Homo sapiens: one gene and its partners. The protein of the gene in region 1 interacts with the protein of each later gene in a biochemical or structural test. Each region holds a gene or a part of one and is shown in the gene's direction. Other genes may lie near its edges.

The links. The genes of interacting proteins can lie anywhere in the genome.
Region 2: the proteins of DNMT1 (region 1) and PCLAF interact in a test that uses a peptide from one of them, tested with the Homo sapiens proteins (one study listed by BioGRID).
Region 3: the proteins of DNMT1 (region 1) and RGS6 form a complex in vitro, tested with the Homo sapiens proteins (one study listed by BioGRID).

The regions. Positions count from the first base shown.
Region 1 is NC_000019.10:10,191,946-10,199,158, reverse strand, and holds the start of DNMT1 (DNA (cytosine-5)-methyltransferase 1), read left to right. Parts: upstream 1-4,205; 5' UTR 4,206-4,259; coding exon 4,260-4,339; intron 4,340-7,213. UniProt on the Homo sapiens protein: Methylates CpG residues. Preferentially methylates hemimethylated DNA. Associates with DNA replication sites in S phase maintaining the methylation pattern in the newly synthesized strand, that is essential for epigenetic inheritance.
Region 2 is NC_000015.10:64,371,419-64,378,441, reverse strand, and holds part of PCLAF (PCNA-associated factor), read left to right. Parts: intron 1-1,536; coding exon 1,537-1,699; intron 1,700-7,023. UniProt on the Homo sapiens protein: PCNA-binding protein that acts as a regulator of DNA repair during DNA replication.
Region 3 is NC_000014.9:72,558,429-72,565,451, forward strand, and holds part of RGS6 (regulator of G-protein signaling 6), read left to right. Parts: intron 1-3,988; coding exon 3,989-4,039; coding exon of another isoform or gene 4,040-4,161; 3' UTR 4,162-4,286; coding exon of another isoform or gene 4,287-4,599; 3' UTR 4,600-7,023. UniProt on the Homo sapiens protein: Regulates G protein-coupled receptor signaling cascades. Inhibits signal transduction by increasing the GTPase activity of G protein alpha subunits, thereby driving them into their inactive GDP-bound form. The RGS6/GNB5 dimer enhances GNAO1 GTPase activity.

The DNA.
Region 1 (7,213 bases):
TATTTACCATCTTATCAATTTTTCAGTGTACAGTTCAGTATATACACATTGTTGTGCAACAGATCTCTGGAATCATTTTGTAAAACTGAAACTCTTGAACAATAACTCCTTTTCCTCCTTCCCCCCCGGCCTTGGTAACCACTATTCTACTTTCTGTTTCTAAGATTTTGATTACTTTAGATACTTCATAAGTGGAATTGTATGGTATTTGTCTTTGTGTGATTAGGTTCTCTCACTGTGCGTAATGTCCTCAAGGTTCATCCATGTTGTAGCATATAATAAGATATTTTTTCTTTTCTTTTGTTTTTTGGAGACGGAGTTTCACTCTTGTCACCCAGGCTGGAGTGCAATGGTGTGATCTCAGCTCACTGCAACCTCCACCTCTCGGGTTCAAGCAGTACTCTTGCCTTAACCTCCTAAGTAGCTGGGATTACAGGTGCATGCCACCATACCCAGCTAATTTTGTATTTTTACTTTTATATTATTTATTTATTTATTTATTTATTTATTTTGAGATGGAGTTTCCCTCTTGTTGCCCAGGCTGGAGTACAATGGTGTAATCTCAGCTTACCTCAACCTCCACCTCCAGGGTTCAAGCAATTCTCCTGCCTCAGCCTCCGGAGTAGCTGGGGTTATAGGCATGAGCCACTATGTCCAGCTAATTTTGTATTTTTAGTAGAGATGGGGTTTCTCCATGTTGGCCAGGCTGGTCTCGAACTCCTGACCTCAGGTGATCCACCCGCCTTGGCTTCCCAAAGTGTTGGGATTACAGGTGTGAGCCACTGCACCTGGCCATTTTTTCTTTTTTAAAGACTGAATTAGGCTGGGTGCAGTGGCTTACACCTGTAATCCCAGCGCTTTGGGAGGCCAAGGCCAGCAGATCGCTTGAGCTCAGGAGTTTGAGACCAGCCTGGGCAACATGGAGAAATCCTGTCTCTACAAAAAATATAAAAAGTTAGCCCATTGTGGTGGCACATACCTGTAGTCCCAGCTACTTAAGAAGCTGAGGTAGGAGTATGCCTTGAGCCCAGGAGTTTGACACCTGCCTGGGCAACACAGCAAGACCCCATCTCTTAGCAGCAATATGATCTTTTTTTTTTTTTTTCCTGTCTCTTGGCTGTTGTGACTAATGCTGCAATGAAGACGGGTATGCAAATATCTCTTTAAGATCCTCTTTTCAATTCTTTTGAATTTATATCCAGAAATGGGATTGCTGGATCATATGATAATTCTATTTTTAATTTTTTTGAGGAACTTCCATGCTGTTTCTCATAGCAGCTCCACCATTTTATTCGACTCTCAACCGTGCACAAGGGTTCCAGTTTCTCCACATCTTCACCAACACTTATTATTTGACAGTGGCCATTCTAAGGGGTCTTAGGGATATTTCATTGTGGTTTTGATTTGCATTTCCCTGATGACCAGTGATGTTGAGCATCTTTTCATATGCCTGTTTTCTATTTGCATATCTCCTTTGGGAAAGTATGTATTCAAATCATTTGCTCTTTTTGTTTGTTTTTGAGACGGAGTCTCGCTCTGTTGCCCAGGCTGGATGGAGTGCAGTGGTGCAATCTCGGCTTGCTGCAAGCTCCACCTCCTGGGTTCACACCATTCTCCTGCCTCAGCCTCCTGATTAGCTGAGACTACAGGCGACTGCCACCACGCCTGGCTAATTTTTTGTATTTTTAGTAGAGATGGGGTTTCACCACGTTAGCCAGGATGGTCTCGATCTCCTGACCGCGTGATCCGCCTGCCGCCTGGGCCTCCCAAAGTGCTGGGATCACAGGTGTGAGCCACCGCACCCAGCCCATTTGCTCATTTGTAAATCGAGTTTTTGTTGTTGCATTGTAGAAATTTATTATTTTTTAAATTTTTATTTGAGACAGAGTTTCTCTCTTGTTGCGCAGGCTGGAGCGCAATGGTGCAATCTCGGCTCACTGCAACCTCCGCATCCCAGGTTCAAGTGATTCTCCTGCCTCAGCCTTCCGAGTAGCTGGGATTACAGGCACACCACCATGCCCAGCAAATTTTTATATTTTGAGGAGAGACAGGGTTTCACCATGTTGGCCAGGCTGGTCTCAAACTCTTGACCTCAGGTGATCCACCCGCCTTGGCCTCTCAAAGTGCTGGGATTACAGGCGTGAGCCACCAAGCCTGACGGGTAGTAATTTATTTTTTATATAATTTTTTTCTTCTTTTTTTGGTAGAGACGAGGTTTTGCCATGTTGCTCAGGCTGGTCTAAAACTACCGGGCTCAAGTGATCTGCCTACCCGGGCCTCCCAAAGTGCAGGGATCACAAGCATGAACCACCATGCCTGGCTGTAATTTTTCATATATTCCGGATATTAACCCTTTACCAGATAATACAGTTTGCAAACTTTTTTTTTCCCCATTCTGTAGGTTGCCTTTTCACTGTTGGTCATTTCTTTTGCTGTATAGCTATCCTTAAGTTTGTTGCAAACCCATTTGTCTATCTTTTGTCTTGTTGCCTGTGTTTTGCTGTCATATCCAAGAAATCATTGCCAAATCCATTGTCATGAAGCTTTTCCCCATGTTTTCTTCTAGGAGCACTATAGTTTCAGGTCTTATGTTTAATCTTTAATAAGTTTTGTGTTTTTGTATATGGTGTAAGGTAAGGGTCCAACTTCATTCTTTTGTATGTGGTTATACAGTTTTCTCAGCACCATTTGTTAAAGACACAATCTTTCCCCCATGTTCTGGTGCTTTAAAAAAAAAAAAAATTCTGGCTGGTTACGGTGGCTTAGGCCTATAATCCCAGCACTTTGGGAGGCTGAGGCAAGTGGACTGCTTGAGGCTAGGAGTCCCAGACTAGCCTGGCCAACATGGTGAAACCCTGTCTCTACCACCGAAGATACAAAAATTAGCCAGGCGTGGTGGAGTACGCCTGTAATCCCAGCCTACTAGGGAGGCTGAGGCATGAGAATCGCTTGAACCTGGGAGGCAGAGGTTGCAGTGAGCCAAGATCTCACCACTGCACGCCAGCCGGGGTGACAGAGTGAGGCAGGGTCTTACCCTGTCGCCCAGGCAGGAGTCCAGTGGCCCAATCATGGCTCATTGCAGCCTACACTGCCAGGGTTCAAGCCATCCTCCCACCTCAGCCTCCCAAGTAGCTAGGATTACAGGTGTGTGTCACCATGCCCAGCAAATCTTTGTATTTTTTGTAGAGATGGGGTATCCCTATGTTGCTCAGGCTGGTCTTGAACTCCTAACCTCAAGCGATCCTCCCACCTGGGCCTCTCAAAGCACTGGGATTACAGGCGTGAGCCACTGCGCCTGACATGGTGCTTCTTAATTTATTCTTACTTTTTATTTTTATTTTTTTGAGACAAGGTCTTGCTCTGTCTCCCAGGCTGGAATGTAGTGGTACAATCATGGCTCACTGCAACCTCTGCCTCTCCGGTTCAAGTGATCTTCCTGCCTCAACCTCTGGAGTAGTTTGGACTATGGGCACATGCCACAACGACTAGCTAATTTTTGTTTTTCTTTTTTTCTTTCTTTCTTTCTTTCTTTTTTTTTTTTTTTGAGATGCAGTTTCTCTATGTTACCTAGGCTGGTCTAAAACTCCTGGGCTCAAGCGATCCTCCCACCCTGGCCTCCCAAAGTGCTGGGATGACAGGCGTGAGCCACGTGGTGCTTAAAAAAGGCAACAAAAAACCCCCCACACACTGGGTATAGAAGTGGCATGGGCCTCTATACACTGTGAGATTCTTGGTACTAGCTACAAATTCTGTGTATACTCAAGATTTTCTAGAGTAGGTGCAATTACCCCGTTTTACAGATGAGGACACAGAGGCTGAGCCGTAGTGACCCACCTAAGGTCGTATAGCCAGCAAATAGATGGAGGTTGGATTGGAACTGAGGACTTTACTCAAGGGCTCTCACAAACCCTTGGGGGCTTCTCGCTGCTTTATCCCCATCACACCTGAAAGAATGAATGAATGAATGCCTCGGGCACCGTGCCCACCTCCCAGCAAACCGTGGAGCTTGGACGAGCCCACTGCTCCGCGTGGGGGGGGTGTGTGCCCGCCTTGCGCATGCGTGTTCCCTGGGCATGGCCGGCTCCGTTCCATCCTTCTGCACAGGGTATCGCCTCTCTCCGTTTGGTACATCCCCTCCTCCCCCACGCCCGGACTGGGGTGGTAGACGCCGCCTCCGCTCATCGCCCCTCCCCATCGGTTTCCGCGCGAAAAGCCGGGGCGCCTGCGCTGCCGCCGCCGCGTCTGCTGAAGCCTCCGAGATGCCGGCGCGTACCGCCCCAGCCCGGGTGCCCACACTGGCCGTCCCGGCCATCTCGCTGCCCGACGATGTCCGCAGGCGGTAGGTACCATGGGGGGGAACACGGACTCAGGGGGACAGGCAGGGCGCTGGGTGGGGGGTCGCTTCCCCTCGGGGTGGCCGGTGGCCGCTGCTGACAGACGGGCGCGCATGCGTGGGGTGGTGCGGCGCGCAGCGGCAGTTGGCGCGGGCAGGGTGGCACTTCCGGTCGCGCGTGCCCGGGCTGTTTGGCGCCAAAATGGACCGTGGATTCCCCCGTAGCTCCCTGGTGGCTAGAAACTAGGCGGGGTGGGGGTTCTCTTTTGATCCCCAAATACAGCAAGCTTTGGGTTCGTTTCCGGGGTCCCCTTCTTCAAGCAGCGGTGGGCCGGGCTCTTGACTCCAGCTTGGTCGCACAGGAAGTGGGCAGCCCGCGGCCAACGGACACCCCTCGGGCACCGGCACTTCGGCCTCCACTTCCGGTGTCCGGCCCGGTCCCCGGGGGCGCTTCTGTGGTGGGGGGTCCCTCAGTGCCTTTCCCCCAAAGCTGTGCATCTCGATGGCGGCCTCCAGAGACGGATGTCACCCGTCGGGGCCTGGGCTGGGCTGGCTCATGTTCGAGAGCCCAGCCTTCCGTGGGGTACTCATTCTGTCAGTTGGGACTGTGTGGTTCTTGCTCCTTGGGAAAGTCCATGTTTTGGCAGGAACTTTAACCGTGCATTGCAGCGCAGGGCCCGGGAAGCGTGAAGGCTGCATGGTTGGTCTTTTCCTGTAAATCTGTGCCTGTGAGCCGTGGGCATCAGGGAAGTCTTGCTAATGAGAACTGGCTACACTTTCGTGTGTGTTTGTGTGTGTTCATGGGTGTGTTCTTTAGTGTGTGTCTAATGTTGGAGGCCCTGGCTTTAGCAGTTCATGCCTCTGTCCAACTTCCGTGCACAAGGATCAGTGGGAGCACTGGTCCCAGCCCCTTGTTCATGAACGCCATCAGTTCATTCCTGAAAACTTGTTCAAGTGAGGTGTGCGTGAGTCAGAGGAACCCTCACCAGGCGTGGACACTTCCAGCTGGATTTGTGAAAGCACTCTTTGCCATTTTTCTATTTCCTTAGGCTTGTTAACTGACCTGGTTGGGCCAGTCCGGTTCTGATTTGGGTCTTTGGGGAGGGATGGATATTTGGTTCAACCCCCGCTTTTTTTCTTTTCTTTTTTTTTTTTTTTTTGAAGGCTGGGTGCTGTGGCTTATGCCTGTAATCCCAGCAATTTGGGAGGCAGTGGCGGACGAATCTCTTGAGCCAGGAGTTTGAGACCAGCCTGGGCAACAAGGCAAAACCCCATGTCTACTAAAAATACAAAAATTAGCCTGGAGTAGTGCCGTGCGCCTGTGGTCCCAACTACTCAACAGACTAAGGTGGGAGTATCACTTGAGCCCCAGAGGTTGAGGCTGTGTGTAGCGAGCTGAGATCGCGCTATTGCACTCCAGCCTGGGTGACAGAGTGAGACCCTGTCTCAAAAAAAGAAACACTTTTTATTTTTAGAGATGGGTCTCACTCTGTTGTCCAGGCTGGAGTGCCCTGGCACAATTATAACTCACTGTAGCCTTGAACTCCTGGGCTTAAGGGATCCTCAGCCTCCTGAGTAGCTGGGACCACAGGCGCCCACCACCATGCCCAGATGACTTTCTTAGTTTTTGTTTCTGTATACGTGAGGTTTCACCATATTGCCCAGGCTGGTCTTAAACCCCTGCCCTCAAGCAGTCCTCCTGCCTTTGTGTCCCAAAGGTTAGGATTACAAGTATGAGCCATCATGCCTTAACTACTACTTTTTTTTGTTTGTTTGTTTGAGATGGAGTCTCATTCTTTCACCCAGGCTGGAATGCGGTGGCGTGATCTCGGCTCACTGCAACCTCCACTTTCAGGGTTCAAGTGATTCTCCTGCCTCAGCCTCCGAAGTAGCTGGGATTACAGGTGCACACCACCACGCCTGGCTAATTTTTGTGTTTTCAGTGGAGTCGGGGTTTCTCCATGTTGGTCAGGCTGGTCTCGAACTCCTGACCTCGTGATCCACCTGCCTCAGCCTCCCAAAGTGCTGGGATTATAGTCAAACCACTTCTTAACCAGTTAGTGGGTATATATCTTCTTGAATCATCTGTGCCAGTATTCTCCCAAAATAAAACTTGATTTAAAATGGAATGGAAGTGAAATTATGAAAGTGCCTGGCTTCATGATGTTACACCCAATTCAGAGAAGTTTGGGCCCGGCCTTCCTTTTTTATTCCTTTTTTTTATTTTGTAGAGATGGGGTCTTGCCATGTTGCTCAGGCTGGTCTTCGATTCCTGGCCTCAAGCGATCCTCCTGCCTCAGCTTCCCAAAGTGTTGGGATTACGGGTGTGAGCCACCATGCCCAGCCTGCCCAGCCTTCTTGAAAACATGACCTCCACTGGCTCAATGACCTTAAACAAGCGTATGCCACCTCTATATCCATAGTCTAGGAATAATGACATGGGTTTTCAGCTGGTATTGGGTTAAATGAGAATATGCATGGCACATAAAGGTTCACATGCTAGTGGCTAACTTAGCTTGTTTTTTTCAGTTTTTTTTTAAGAGACAGGATCTCACTGTGTCACCCAGGCTGGAATGCAGTGGCACAGTCATGGCTTACTGCAGCCTTGAACCCCTGAGCTCAAGCAATCCTCCTGCCTTAGCCTCCTGAGTGGCTGGCACATGCCACCATGCCCAAGTTAATCCTTAAAAAATTTTTTAGAAGGCTGGGCGCGGTGGCTCACGTCTGTAATCCCAGCACTTTGGGAGGCTGAGATGGGCAGATCACCTGAGGTCAGGAGTTTGAGACCAGCCTGGCCAACGTGGCGAAACCCCATCTCTACTAAAAATACAAAAAAATTAGCCAGGTATGGTGGCAGGTGCCTGTAATCGCAGCTACTCG
Region 2 (7,023 bases), on another chromosome or scaffold:
TAAATAAATAAGTAGAAACAATATAACTTCAGAGTCTATATGGAAACAACTTTTGTAAGCATTCTTTAACAACTAGAGTTGTTAAAGCAAATGTTTTAGCTTAAAGCAAAAGATTTGCAGTAACTGAATAATTTGTTCCTGGTCATTACTTTATAAAAAGGCAAGAATTTTCCCTCAATTTCTCCTTATATTACTGTTGAAAAATAACCAGGAATTGGCCGGGCAGGGTGGCTCACACTTGTAATCCCAGCACTTTGGGAGGCCAAGGCGGGCGGATCATGAGGTCAGGAGATCGAGACCATCCTAGCATGGTGAAACCCTGTCTCTACTAAAAGTACAAAAAATTAGCCAGGTGTGGTGGCGGGCGCCTGTAGTCCCAACTGCTCGGGAGGCTGAGGCAGGAGAATGGCATGAACCCGGGAGGCGGAGCTTGCAGTGAGCCAAGATCGTGCCACTGCACTGCAGCCTGGGTGACAGAGTGAGACTCTGTCTCCCCCCCAAAAAAACAAAAACAAAACAAAAATTAGCTGGGCGTGGTGGCGGGCGCCTGTAATCCCTGCTACTCGGGAGGCTGAGGCAGGAGAATCACTTGAATCCGGGAGGCAGAGGTTACAGTAAGCCAAGATTGCGCCACTGCACTCCAGCCTGGGTGACAGAGCTAGACTTTGAAAAAAAAAAAAAAAAAAAAAAAAAACACCAGGAATTGGACTTCTCTTATGAACTGAAAAGGAGCCAGGTGCTTTGAAAAATGGAATCTACTTTTGTGGAGACTTTCACATTGCCTCTTATATGTGCTTTAACTAAATGACCTTAGTAAGTAAAATGTTGGCACTTTATACTACATGGTCCTATCTTATGTTAGGAAAAAGTGTGTCAAACTTCAGTATGTCAGTACATACAAGAATATATATATATATATATATATATATATATATATATATATATATATATATTTTTTTTTTTTTTTTTTTGAGACAGAGTCTCGCTCTGTTGCCAGACTGGAGTGTGCAGTGGCGGCGCAATCTTGGCTCACTGCAACCTCCGACTCGCTGGTTCAAGTGATTCTCCTGCCTCAGCCTCCCAAGTAGCTGGGAATACAGGCACGTGCCGCCACACCCAGCTAATTTTTGTATTTTTAGTAGAGACGGGGGTTTCACCATGTTGTCCAGGTTGGTCTCGAACTCCTGACCTTGTGATCCACCCTCCTCAGCCTCCCAAAGTGCTGGGATTACAGGCGTGAGCCACTGGACCCGGCAAGAGTATTTGAATAGCTCTGCTTGTGGACAAAATATAAAAATATTTTTCAGTTGTAAAAATTCTGTTACTACTGTTATTGCTAAGATAACCATCACACTGAGTTTATTGGTGGAATACAGCTTTATTGTGTCACATTTTCTAATTCTTTAAGTTGTATATCTTAAATAAAGATTATTTAATACCTTTGAGAATTTGATGTTAAAGAAGGAATTAAGTTGTTTAAGGAATAGAGATTGTATTATTAGCACTTATCTAGTTCCATCTGTTTATATTTTACAGCTGAAAATAAATATGCAGGAGGGAACCCCGTTTGCGTGCGCCCAACTCCCAAGTGGCAAAAAGGAATTGGAGAATTCTTTAGGTTGTCCCCTAAAGATTCTGAAAAAGAGAATCAGATTCCTGAAGAGGCAGGAAGCAGTGGCTTAGGAAAAGCAAAGAGAAAGTAAGTTTTTATATTCTGGAATATAAAGAAAATATTTATCTCACGCCTGTAATCCCAGCACTTTGGGAGGCCGAGGCGGGAGGATCACTTGAGGCCAGGAGTTCAAAACCAGCCTGTCCAACATGGTGGAACCCTGTCTCTACTAAAAATACAAAATTAGCTCGGCGTGCTGGTGCACACCTGTTGTCCTAGCTATTTGGGAGGCTCAAACAAAAGAATTGCTTGGTGCAGCAAACCACCATGCACACATATACCTATATAACAAACTTGCATGTAATGCACATGTATCTCATTTTCACGCCACTGCCCTCCAGTCTGGGGGACAGAGTGAGACTCTGTCTCAAATAAAAAATTAATTAATTAATTAATAAAGAAAATATCTTGAAAATAAAGGACAAATAGGATATTGAGTCAAGTTTCTCTTCAAGCTCATAAGAAAATGCAAAAAAAGTTTTTAAAAACTTCTTCTAATTTCTTATTATAACTCACTCCCAAATTTCTTTTCTTTTTTTTTTCCTGAGACGGAGTCTTGCTCTGTTGCCCAGGCTAGAGGGCAGTGGCGCTATCTCAGCTCACTGCAACCTCCGCCTCCCAGGTTCAAGCAATTTTCCTGCCTCAGCCTCCCAAGTAGCTGGGATTACAGGCACACGCCACCACGCCCAGCTAATTTTTGTATTTTTAGTAGAGACAGGGTTTTGCCTTGTTGGCCAGGCTGGTCTTGAACTCTTGACTTTGTGATCTACCCACCTTAGCCTCCCAAAGTACTGGGATTACAGGCGTGAGCCACTGCATCCAGCCAGCAAATTTCAAACATTAGTAAAAAGTATTCTTTTTACTCTTCCCAATCTCTCAAAGAGGATCAGTTCCCATTCACATAAGTGCTATGTCATTAACCATGAACTTAGTGTATTGAGTCTTTAATTCTTACTGTCTTTTTCCTTTAGGCTTTTCTTACAAGGCAATTTCCTTGTTGGCTTATATAACTTGAATTCCATTAATCCTGTCCCTTAAAAAACTACCAGTTCAACTTGCACAAGAAATATATAACCAGGCTGTGTGCGGTGGCTCATGCCTGTAATCCTAGCACTTTGGGAGGCTACAGTGGGCAGATCGCTTGAGCTCAGGAGTTCCAGACCAGCCTGGGCAACATGGTGAAACCCCTTCTCTACCAAAAGGGTGGCGGCGCCGCCTATAATCCCAGCCACTAGGGAGGCTGAGGTGGGAGAATTGCTTGACCCTGGGAGATGAAGGTTGCAGTGAGCCGAGATCCCGCCACTGTACTCCAGCATGGGTGGCAGAGTGAGGACCTGTCTCAAAAATAGGCCTGGCACAGTGGCTCACCTCTGTAATCCCAGCACTTTGAGAGTCCAAGGCAGGCAGATCACAAGATCAAGAGATCGAGACCATCCTGCAACATGGTGAAACCCCGTCTCTACTAAAAATACAAAAAATTAGCCGGGCGTGGTGGCACGTGCCTGTAATCTCAGCTACTCGGGAGGCTGAAGCAGGAGAATTGCTTGAACCTGAAAGGTGTTGGTTGCAGTGAGCTGAGATCGCACCACTGCACTCCAGCCTGGGGGACAGAGCGAGACTCCATCTCAAAAAAAATCAAGTAAAATAAAAATAAAAATATGACCAATATGGAAAAGTTGGAAAATATAGAAATCCCCATCACCTAGAACCAACTAGGAATAATACCATGGTGTATTGTCTTTACAACTTCTCTGTAAGTACGTAAGAATAGTGAAAAACAAAAAGTAGGGATAAAACTACACACACCAAACTTGGTGTGCAACCTTTAAAAAAAAGTTTCCGAGTTTCATCCGTTGTATTTCATGAATATCTCATTCCTTTTTTCCTTTTTTTCTTTCTTTCTTCCTTTTTTTTTTTTTTTTTGATATGGGGGTCTCACTCTGTCACCCAGGCTGTAATGCAGTGGCCCAATGTTCGCTCACTTCAACCTCTGCCTCCTGGGTTCGATTGATTCTCCCACCTCAGCCTTCCAAGTAGCTGGAATTACAGGCATGTGCCATGGAGTTCAGCTAATTTTTTGTGTTTTTGGTAGAGATGAGGTTTTGCCACGTTGCCTAGGCCGGTCTCAAACTCCGGAGCTCAAGTAATCCACTTGCCTTGGCCTCCCACTGTGCTGGGATTACAGGCATAAGCTGCCACACCTGGCCAGTGTGCAAACTTTTTTTTTTTTTGAGACGGAGTTTCGCTCTGTTGCCCAGGCTGGAGTGCAGTGGTGCAATCTCGGCTCACTGCAACCTCCACCTCCCGGGTTCACACCAGTCTCCTCCCTCACCCTCCCAAGTAGCTGGGACTACAGGCGCCCGCCACCACGCCTGGCTAATTTTGTTGTATTTTTAGTAGAGATGGGATTTCACCGTGTTAGCCAGGATTGTCTCAATCTGACCTCATGATCTGCCCGCCTCGGCCTCCCAAAGTGCTGGGATTACAGGCGAGTGCAACCACACCCGGCCACAAACTTTTTAAGAAGTTAATGAAACCATACCTTTTACATTTTTAATGACAGGAAAATGCTCACAATAATTGTTAACCCAAAATTCTGGATACAAAAGTACAATCTTTACTGTGTAAATACATGTATATGTACTATATGAAAATATACCAAATATCAATAATACTTATCTCTGGGTAAAAACCTCTTCTCATACCCTGTGCTAACAACTTTTAACAAAAAATTTGCATCACTTTTAAGAATCAAGAAAAATTTCTGAAGGTCATATGGGACAGAAAAAAAAACCAAGGGAAAAATCACGCCACTTGGGAAAAAAAGATTCGAAATCTGCCTTTTTATAGATTTGTAATTAATAAGGTCCAGGCTTTCTAAGCAACTTAAATGTTTTGTTTCGAAACAAAGTACTTGTCTGGATGTAGGAGGAAAGGGAGTGATGTCACTGCCATTATGATGCCCCTTGAATATAAGACCCTACTTGCTATCTCCCCTGCACCAGCCAGGAGCCACCCATCCTCCAGCACACTGAGCAGCAAGCTGGACACACGGCACACTGATCCAAATGGGTAAGGGGATGGTGGCGATGCTCATTCTGGGTCTGCTACTTCTGGCGCTGCTCCTACCCGTGCAGGTTTCTTCATTTGTTCCTTTAACCAGTATGCCGGAAGCTACTGCAGCCGAAACCACAAAGCCCTCCAACAGTGCCCTACAGCCTACAGCCGGTCTCCTTGTGGTCTTGCTTGCCCTTCTACATCTCTACCATTAAGAGGCAGGTCAAGAAACAGCTACAGTTCTCCAACCCATACACTAAAACCGAATCCAAATGGTGCCTAGAAGTTCAATGTGGCAAGGAAAAAAACCAGGTCTTCATCAAATCTACTAATTTCACTCCTTATTAACAGAGAAACGCTTGAGAGTCTCAAACTGGACTGGTTTAAAGAGCATCTGAAGGATTTGACTAGATGATAAATGCCAATATTAAATCTGTTGGAGTTTCACGTATAAGACAGAGGAGAAAGAGAACATCAAAAATTACTTAGCAAGCTATGGAATGGAGATTCAGTTTTCATTTTAGTTTGTTAAATCTACAAGGCTGTAAAATGATTAGGTAATAGAAAAAGCTTCCATGATTCTATTTATTATATATGTGCATTGGAAGAAACTACCAGGTGTTACTATAAATATTCTATGTATTGTTTCAGCCATCCTAATTTAATGCTGATATGCTCTAGATTTACATTGCTAAGTTTTCACTCTTCTCTTGGGCACTTAACTCTGTTTCTTTTGTTTGTTTGTTTTGAGAAGGAGTCTCACTCTTGCCCAGGCTGGCGTGCAGTGGTGCTATCTTGGCTCACTGCAACCTTCGCCTCCTGGGTTCAAGCGATTTTTGTGCCTTTCTTGAGTAACTGGGATTACAGGCACGTGCCACCACATCCAGCTAATTTTTGTATTTTTAGTAGAGATGGGATTCACCATGTTGGCCAGGATGGTCTTGATCTCCTGACCTTGTGATCTGCCCGCCTCGGCCTCCCAAAGTGCTGGGATTACAGGCATGAGCCACTGCGCCTGGCCAAGGGCACTTAACTCTTTAGGGCTTTGGATTTGATTTGCCATTGCATTTGACTTTCTTTTCTTTTCTTTTCTTTTTTTGAGATGGAGTCTCGCTCTGTCGCCCAGGCTGGGGTGCAGTGGCGCTATCTCGGCTCACTGCAAGCTCCGCCTCCTGGGTTCATGCCATTCTCCCGCCTCAGCCTCCCCAGCAGCTGGGACTACAGGCGCACGCCGCCACGCCCGGCTAATTTTTTGTATTTTTAGTAGAGACGGGGTTTCACCATGTTAGCCAGGATGGTCTTGATCTCCTGACCTTGTGATCCACCCGCCTCGGCCTCCCAAAGTGCTGGGATTACAGGTGTGAGCCATCGCACCCAGCCCTGCATTTTACTTTCTATGTGGTAATTGAAGTGTGCCAGAGCAATGATAGACTGGAATTTACTCCAAATCCAAGCATGACTAATTCTTGCATATACACTTAAAAGTGAAATAGTAGGCATTTCCTATCACCCATTCCAATTCAACAAGAATGCCAGATTTAGTTACGATACTTAACTGGATTCCAAAAATTAGAAGTGCATTGACTTCAAGTAATTTTAAAATAGTGCCTTTTTATCTTTGTGTATGTCAAATAATTTTCACAACTTAAAAACTGATTTTTTTGTGTGCAGGAGGTGGGTTAAAAGTTGATTTCCTTTGAAGGCGTATTTGATTAATCTTGAAATTAAGAGGTGACTTTGTACATGTTGAATAATTTTTACAACTTAAAAATTGACCATTTTTTGTGCAGGAGGTGGGTTAAAAAAAGTTGATCTGGGCCAGGTGCGGTGGCTAATGCCTGTAATCCCAGCACTTTGGGAGGCCAAGGTGGGCAGATCACTAGAGGCCAGGAGTTCGAAACCATCCTGGAGAACATGGTGAAACTCGGTCTCTACTAAAAATACAAAAATTAGCTGGGTGTGGTGGCACACACCTGTAATGCCAGCTGCTCAGGAGGCTGAGGCAGGAGAATCACTTGAACCCAGGAGGTGGAGTGAGCCAAGATTGCGCCACTGCACTCCTGCCTGGGTGACAGAGCGAGACTCTGTCTCAAAAAAAATTGATCTGTTTTGAAGTCATATTTGATTAATCTTGAAATTAAGCGGTGGGCTGGGCACGGCGGCTCATGCCTGTACTCCCAGTACTTTGGGAGGCCTAGGCCGGCGGATCACCTGAGGTCAGGAGTTTGAGACTAACCTGGCCAAAATGGTGAAACCCCATCTGTACTAAAAATACAAATATTAACTGGGCGTGG
Region 3 (7,023 bases), on another chromosome or scaffold:
CTCCCAGGTAAGTAAGTGGCAAAAGCTCTTGGTAACCCAGATAGTGCATGCTTTGTTGATTAATATGTGGAAGTGCAATGCACAGAGCCACAGCATGTCAAGCAGCATGTTGATTTTTCTCACTGCACAAAAGGGGGCTATTCCTTTTGTGTGTTTCCTTTCAGAAAACAAAGGATTCCATGACCACCTTCTTCCAGGCTCCTAGCCATCAAGATGGCCACAGAGCTGAAATGATTAATCAGAGCGGAGGGTGGGAATTGAATGTGTGGGTGTTAGTGAACCCAGCACTGAGCCCATGGTCCATGAAATTGAAGGATCCCAAATTCTACTGGATTACACTTTGCCAAATGTCTCAAAGGTGAAAAGCACTTTGTCGGTATGCAAAGCTTTGGTGTCTCTGGAATGTACCTTCTGCAGCTCAGTTCTTAATCACTGTATATTTTTTCACTTGGACAAAGGCTGCCTGCTAATAGCATTTTCAACCATCCTCAGCTGCTTCGCTCAGCTACGCCAAGGCCTCGGGCTGAGCTGGCTGCGGTTTCCTGGCACCATGATCCATTCCCAACTGACCAACACTGAGGAACATTACACACTCACACCCTGAAAAAAACCTGCTTCCTCTGTAACTATGCAAATGCCAGACACAGGCAGGCAGAATTACCATTCCCCTTCTGAAGTGGTTCCTTCAGGATCATCCAAACTGGAGACAGAGATGAGAGTAAAGAGACGGGGCAGTGCCCTGGAGGGTACAGGCAGGAGCTCCCCTCTCTCTGGGCACAGCGGATTCCTCGGGAGCTTCCTGCAAGCCTATAGGGGCATGCACTTTGGGGCAGCTCATCTCTGAACACAGGTAGCCTCTACTATCAGATTTCACTTTGATCACTGAAAACTACAGGAGTCTCAGCTCTTCAGAAGGGAAGCAGCTGCTGAGCAAGTGTGATTGCAGTATTTCTTCCCCAAAGCCCCGGGCCAGGCATCTACCCATGCCCGCATCCTGCATGATTAACCGCCTTCCAGTCTGAGCCTGCCCTCACTCACGCGGGAGGTCACTGGGTAGCGAGTAGATTGCAGCTGGGCTGAGCTGCCTCTCAAGCCGACCTGAACCCTCATGACCTCCATCTTTAGCAGCAAGCTGGCATTTGGTAAATGCGCGAAAGCAGGAGTGGGGAGAGGGAGACAAAAATGCCAAGCAGCACCGCCTGGGTTGCTGAGAGGTTGGGAACAATCCCAAGGGTGGCCCCTAAGCTGGTCAGCTGCACCATCCTACCCTGAAATCCTGGGAAATAAAAGCAGTCGGGGGAAGCGAGGAGCGGGCAGTGACAGGCTGGCCACAGGTCCTTGGAGTCAGAGCGGTGAGGCTGAGCTCCAGGATTTAGTCAGGAAGAGAATAATTAGCACCTTCAAGCCCAGCCCAGCCCAGCCCATTCTGTAGAAAGGGGAAGGGTTGAGGGTATGGAAGCCTCAGGGCCAAATTCACCTAAAACAAATAGACACATAATCCTCCAGAAATAGAATCTCCAACCTCCCTCAACCCACAGTCCCCTCTCCAGCCAAAATAACCTTGTTAATAGGAATGAGGCTGCAGTGAAGGTTTGGGCAACTGGTAAACCTCACCTCCTTTGTCTCTGGGCTTTGAATGTACTCATTGGCAACAGACTCTTATTCAGAAGCTTGAGTGATTTTTTTTTTCCCATCCACCAGCTAAATGAGAGCCCCAAACGCTGTGGATAGCAAACTCAGAACATATATATTTGGGTACATAATGTGTGATTTGTGGCCCTGGCGAAGGAGGGATGGGAGGAGGAGGAGGACCTGATATTGGTGTGTGGTGGTTATCACAGCAATAAGTGGCACCTAAAAGGAGAGCAAACTTCCTTTGTGCCTTTCATAGGACAGGGATGGACATAGGTAACCGGGGGTAGGGGAGGTTTGTAAGAGCTCTCACACAAGGAGGCCCCTAGGCTCAGCAGCCCCGTGTTTCCCCAGCAAGGATGCCCCACACCCCCATGTTTCCTGCCTTCAGGCCTGCCCCAGGAAGGCACATTCCCGAGTGACAAATGCCTCACACTCTATGTAAGAAAGGGCACTCAAGGAGAGTCACCGCTGGGTGTGTGCCACAGAACCCGGGGCTGGGGGGAGCCCTTGAAGGTCAGCCTCTGCCTTCTAAGAGCTATTGTTGTACCTAACCTGGTCTAGACAAAGGAGTAGTCATTCTTAGTGATTTTCAAAGACTGACACCATAACCCTCTTGGATTTTTTAAAAATCTGATTAAAAACTCCTTAGCCAAGTATAAATGTATCCTGCTGCAGGCTAAGTTTAGTGCACTTGAAGATTCAGATAAGGTTGCTGATGGGGTGATTTTGTGGACGTGTGTGTGTGTGTGTGTGTGTGTGTGTGTGTGTGTGTGTGTTTAAGATGGGGAGAAAAAATGAAAAGTTTTGTCTCACTAGTGAAAATGGGGAGTGAAAGCAATGGGGAGGAAAAAGGTCAAGGAGAGGTAGGGAAAGGCAGACTTTCTGACAGCTCCTGAGGGCAATTTCATTTTTGGACAAACTCCCATCTATAGCACCAGAATTCTCAAAGTCAGGCTGGCCATGCCTCTCCATGGAGATCTAAGCCAGATGCCACATTGTCCTGTATCCAGCAAATCCACAGCCCGTGTTGTTTATTAGATAAACCCGTTATCCATCAATTCATCAATCAGCAGGTTTATTGAGGACCCTACCAGGCTTCACAAACCTGATCAATTTTTTAAATTACATCTAGCTTACACGCAGCCAAGCCCAGTAAACAAGACGAGCCCTCACACCCCACTTGGAAATGAACATGAGGAATCGCTGGCCCTTGCAATCTCACGGCCAAACACTGCAGCCCCATGCTGACGAGCTATCACGTGCTGCCCTTCACAGATGGCGGTGGTGTCGCTGACCCACTGTCAATAATATGGGTTTGGAGTGCTTTCCCAGACACAGTGATCAATCTGCCTGGGTCTAGCCATACTGTCCTCTAAAGCCCTGTGCAATGATGCGGATTTCTAAAGAGGGTGAGCTGGAGAACGGGCACACACTATGTAAGGGCAATAAGCAAAGCGACGGAGCCTCGCTCGTGCCCCTCACCCTCCTCCTGGTGCCCAGTCGCAACTCCCCTCCTAGATCAGGGGCTTCTCCGCCATCTCTCCAGGGCACATACACAACGGGACTCTCCTGGCACCTCTATGGCTGATGCACCAGGCCTCATGATCCAGTTCACTGTTTTAGTTTTTGAGAAGAACTGCCACATGGGTTATAGTTGAAGGGCTTGTAGGCTTTCCTGGTATGGGGTCATCAAACTCTGCCTCTGGGTGCCACAGATGGGAAGCCAAGAACATAGGAGACAGCAGGAGTGCACTGCCCTGGGGCCTACAGTGGCTCTGAGCCCCAGCAAATGCCCCCCACTTTCATGGTCCCAGAACTGGTCATCAAGAGGACTCAAGGTCTTTGTGTCTACCCTGCATTCCAAACAGGACTCTGCCTTCTTAAGACTAGTTCATTCATTAGCTTCTGATCAGCCAGATCCTTGGCCACCCTCTATTTGAGTCAAGCCCCCGTCCCTGATCTCAGAACACCCCAAGTCCACCTTTTCCTCCCCCACGTGAACAAAATCAATTTCAGGGCAGCCCGCCGGCATTAAAAATTGCTCTACCTAAAGGTTTAAATACCTGGTTTTTGGTAAGTAAAATTCCCATACCACAAAAAGAGTACCAACAACACACCCTCATAAGGGGACCCTCCAGGACTCCCTGAACCTTCCCTGGAGCCCTGGTTTCTCCAGCTGTCCAAAGTTAAGGCTCCCATACACCTAGAGATCAAATATCAAGATGGTCAGTTGGGTTGGTTGGTCGTTTGGCCTACATGGCTCATGCAACAATTAATTCACCTGTCTGGCTCTCTGTCTCTGTCCCTCTGTGTGTGCGCCTGTGCGTGCCTCTCTGTCGCTGTCTCTCTGCAGGGAAAGTCGCTGGCGGGCAAGCGCCTCACGGGCCTGATGCAGTCCTCCTGACCGTTCCTACCGCAGGTCCAGGGCCTGGGCCCGCGGACCCCACAGGCAGGCGGCGGCGCTCCACATCTGCGGACAGAGTTTCCTTACGAGGAGACTTGGTCACTGTGAAGGAGAAAGAGTGAGGGCAATGAAGGGCGATGGTGGGGAGACTCGGTGGGTGAATGGGGAGACCAGAAAGAAAGAGTCCACAGAGCCTGGGCTGGGCCCGGTGGAGGCTCCTGTTTACAGCCCTCTCTTCTTTGTACAGTTGTATTCCAACACTCCACTCGCTAAGAGGCCCTGATCCCAGCTCATTCAGGGGAGAACACGTCGTGGGGTTCCTGTCACGACTATCACTTGAGATTATATTATTATCCTCACTCCCTCGCTGTCTGGAGACGGTCACACCTTCTGGCAAATTCAAGAGGCATGAGTGGACCGAGAGCACATCCAGCATTTGCATCACCTCCCTGGCACCTCCCATAGTTACAGCCACTACATCCCCACCGCCGCCTGTCATCCCTCACGTCTCTGTGGCCACCCGGGTGTCACTGCCAGCACCAGGCACTGCTTTCACGTAAAATGTCCAAATCACATCTTCAGCAAGAAAGCAACCTCACGGATTGCCCCGCCTCAAGGTCTTTCCACCCTCTTTGAGATCAGCGTTCGGAGAGGTCCCCGCCAGCCCGGTGGCTGCCCTCAGGTCCCGTCACATGTCTCAAGGGTCCAGCGTTCGAGGAAGCACTGTTGTAGATGACAGAGCTTTTTGTTTCACAGCTGCGGGGATTCTGCTGACCATCTTTTAGAAAATTATTTCATAATTTATTCTGGCTTTGCCCCCTTGCTCCTTGGTTTATTCCCTCATGTTTTACTCAAAATAAACATGGCCATGAACTCAGGGGCCATTGGGATTCTCCCCTCTGGCAGCCCCAGGTGGGAGCTGGGAGGGTCCCCAGCCCAGGAGGTGGCTGGATTGCAGGGCTGGCAGCCCCCACGTGGTGGCATCCTGACAGGCACAGTGAGACCCTTGCTGGGTCAGGTCTCCTTTGTGTGTGAAGCTGGGGCAGAGTATGCTACGAAGGGACCAGGCCAGGCCACAGGGCTCTCCTCCCAGTCTTTATCTGAAGGCCCAGCCAAAGCACCCCTCTAAACCGGTCACCTAGGGGAAATGCAAAAACCTGCAAAAGATCCACCTGTATTCCCTGTGTGTGTGTGTCAAAATGACCATTTGCCAACCTGGCTGTGAGGTAATGTATGTAAAGCACCGAGTCAGGTGCCTGATACGCAGTAGGTGCTTAGCAAACGGTAGCTAATACTATCATCATTGTCATTGTTATTGTGACACCCATGAGCCCACAGACAGAGCTGTATTAAGTAACCTGTTTTGAATCCAGACATTCACTCCCCCACTTGCTATGACTACCCTCCTTTGATCTATTTTTGGTCATAGGTAAAAAAAAAAATCTCTCTTGGGAGCATATAAACAAAAAACATAGAAGCAATAAAGCGATCGCTGGTATTTCTTTTCTCATGCAGCCAAATTCGCCAGCTGGTGACCAAAGGCTCAGATGCTTGCTTATTTGCAGACCCGGCCTCCTGGGTGCTCCCCAGTGACCCATCTTTCCACCCCACCACCTCCAAGTCCTGTCTATGTCTGCTTCCACACAGCCCTGTCCCCAGGGCACCAGCCTTCTGTCCCTCACAGCAGTGCCATCGCGGGCATTAGGAGTCTTCGTTATGTTGTATCCTTGTGAGTTCTTGACTACCATGCCCAAGTTTCCCCCACTGGCAATGGTTCCTCTCTTGGAGGTACAGTGGAAACCAGAGAGATGACAGATGTTGAGTCCTCAGTGTCTCAGAGGCAGCAATTCTTGCTGGACACCTGCACATGCTCAGCACAGAGGCTGGTACTTTGGAGGCACTAACCACTTGATGAGTAAATCAATGGCATAAAGCCCCATTCCAAGTTATGGGGTCTTTTGACAGGCCCCTTTCATCCTCTTTCTCTTTGTATAAACCTCATGTTTCAGAACAAAATTACAGTCTAAGTTCATTTGCCCCCAGCCTTGCCCAAGGATCCCCGGGCTGTGCTGACCCCTAGGCATAGGGCAAAGGGTGTTCCCAAGCAGCAGGCACCTCAGTGCCCTCAGTTATCCAGGGCAAGGGGCCTGGCTGCCCCCTGCTCCTCCCCATGATGCAGGGGCTTTCTAAGCCAGGCTGCAGACAGGGCAGGGTTGGCTTCTTGGCCATTCCCTCTGTGCCCCCTTCTCCTTCTGACTGGTCTCACCCTGGAGATCCCCAGAGGATCTGACCAGAGCCAGGTGGACTGTGGCCCTGAGATGGAGCTGGCTGCAGGCTTACAAGCACCTCTGGGGACATCCAGAGGGGAGGGTCAGTAAGCACAACGGAGCTAGGGAGACTTCAGATGGACTCAAACCCAGAGCAATAATACTCTCACACCACCCCACAGCTAAGGCACTCATGTTCCCCAGTAGATCAAGCCAGAAGCTTTGCAAGAAGGGAGTGGAACGAGGCTGCCTATCCAAGGTCCATCTACCACGCAGAACTTGGTCATGCAAGTACATTTGGAAAATCTGGTCTTGGCCCGTCCCCCATTGGCCTGGTCTACACAGCCAAAAATTCAGACTAGATTAGATGTTTGCAGGCAATTCTGTAGCAAAGCAAATTCCCCTACCCCGTCCCTTCCCCCTAGAAGCTGCCTTAGCCTCCCTGACTGGGTGTGGTCTCTGGGCCTAGGACTCCTCCCTATGAGGAAAAGTGCTCTCCAGCCACATCTTGGCAGCCCCACAACCACAGCATCAGGGCAGCTGCAGCAAGTGACCACCCACCCGTCGGGTTAGACACACAAGGCACCAGGCACTGGCATCTGACTAAAATAACCTTTCCCTACATGGGAAGAGGAAAGCTTGTAGGCTGGCACATATAAACGTCCAGCCGCAGCCAGATGGCCTGAACTAAGCAGCAGGAACTCTCTGGGCTGGGGA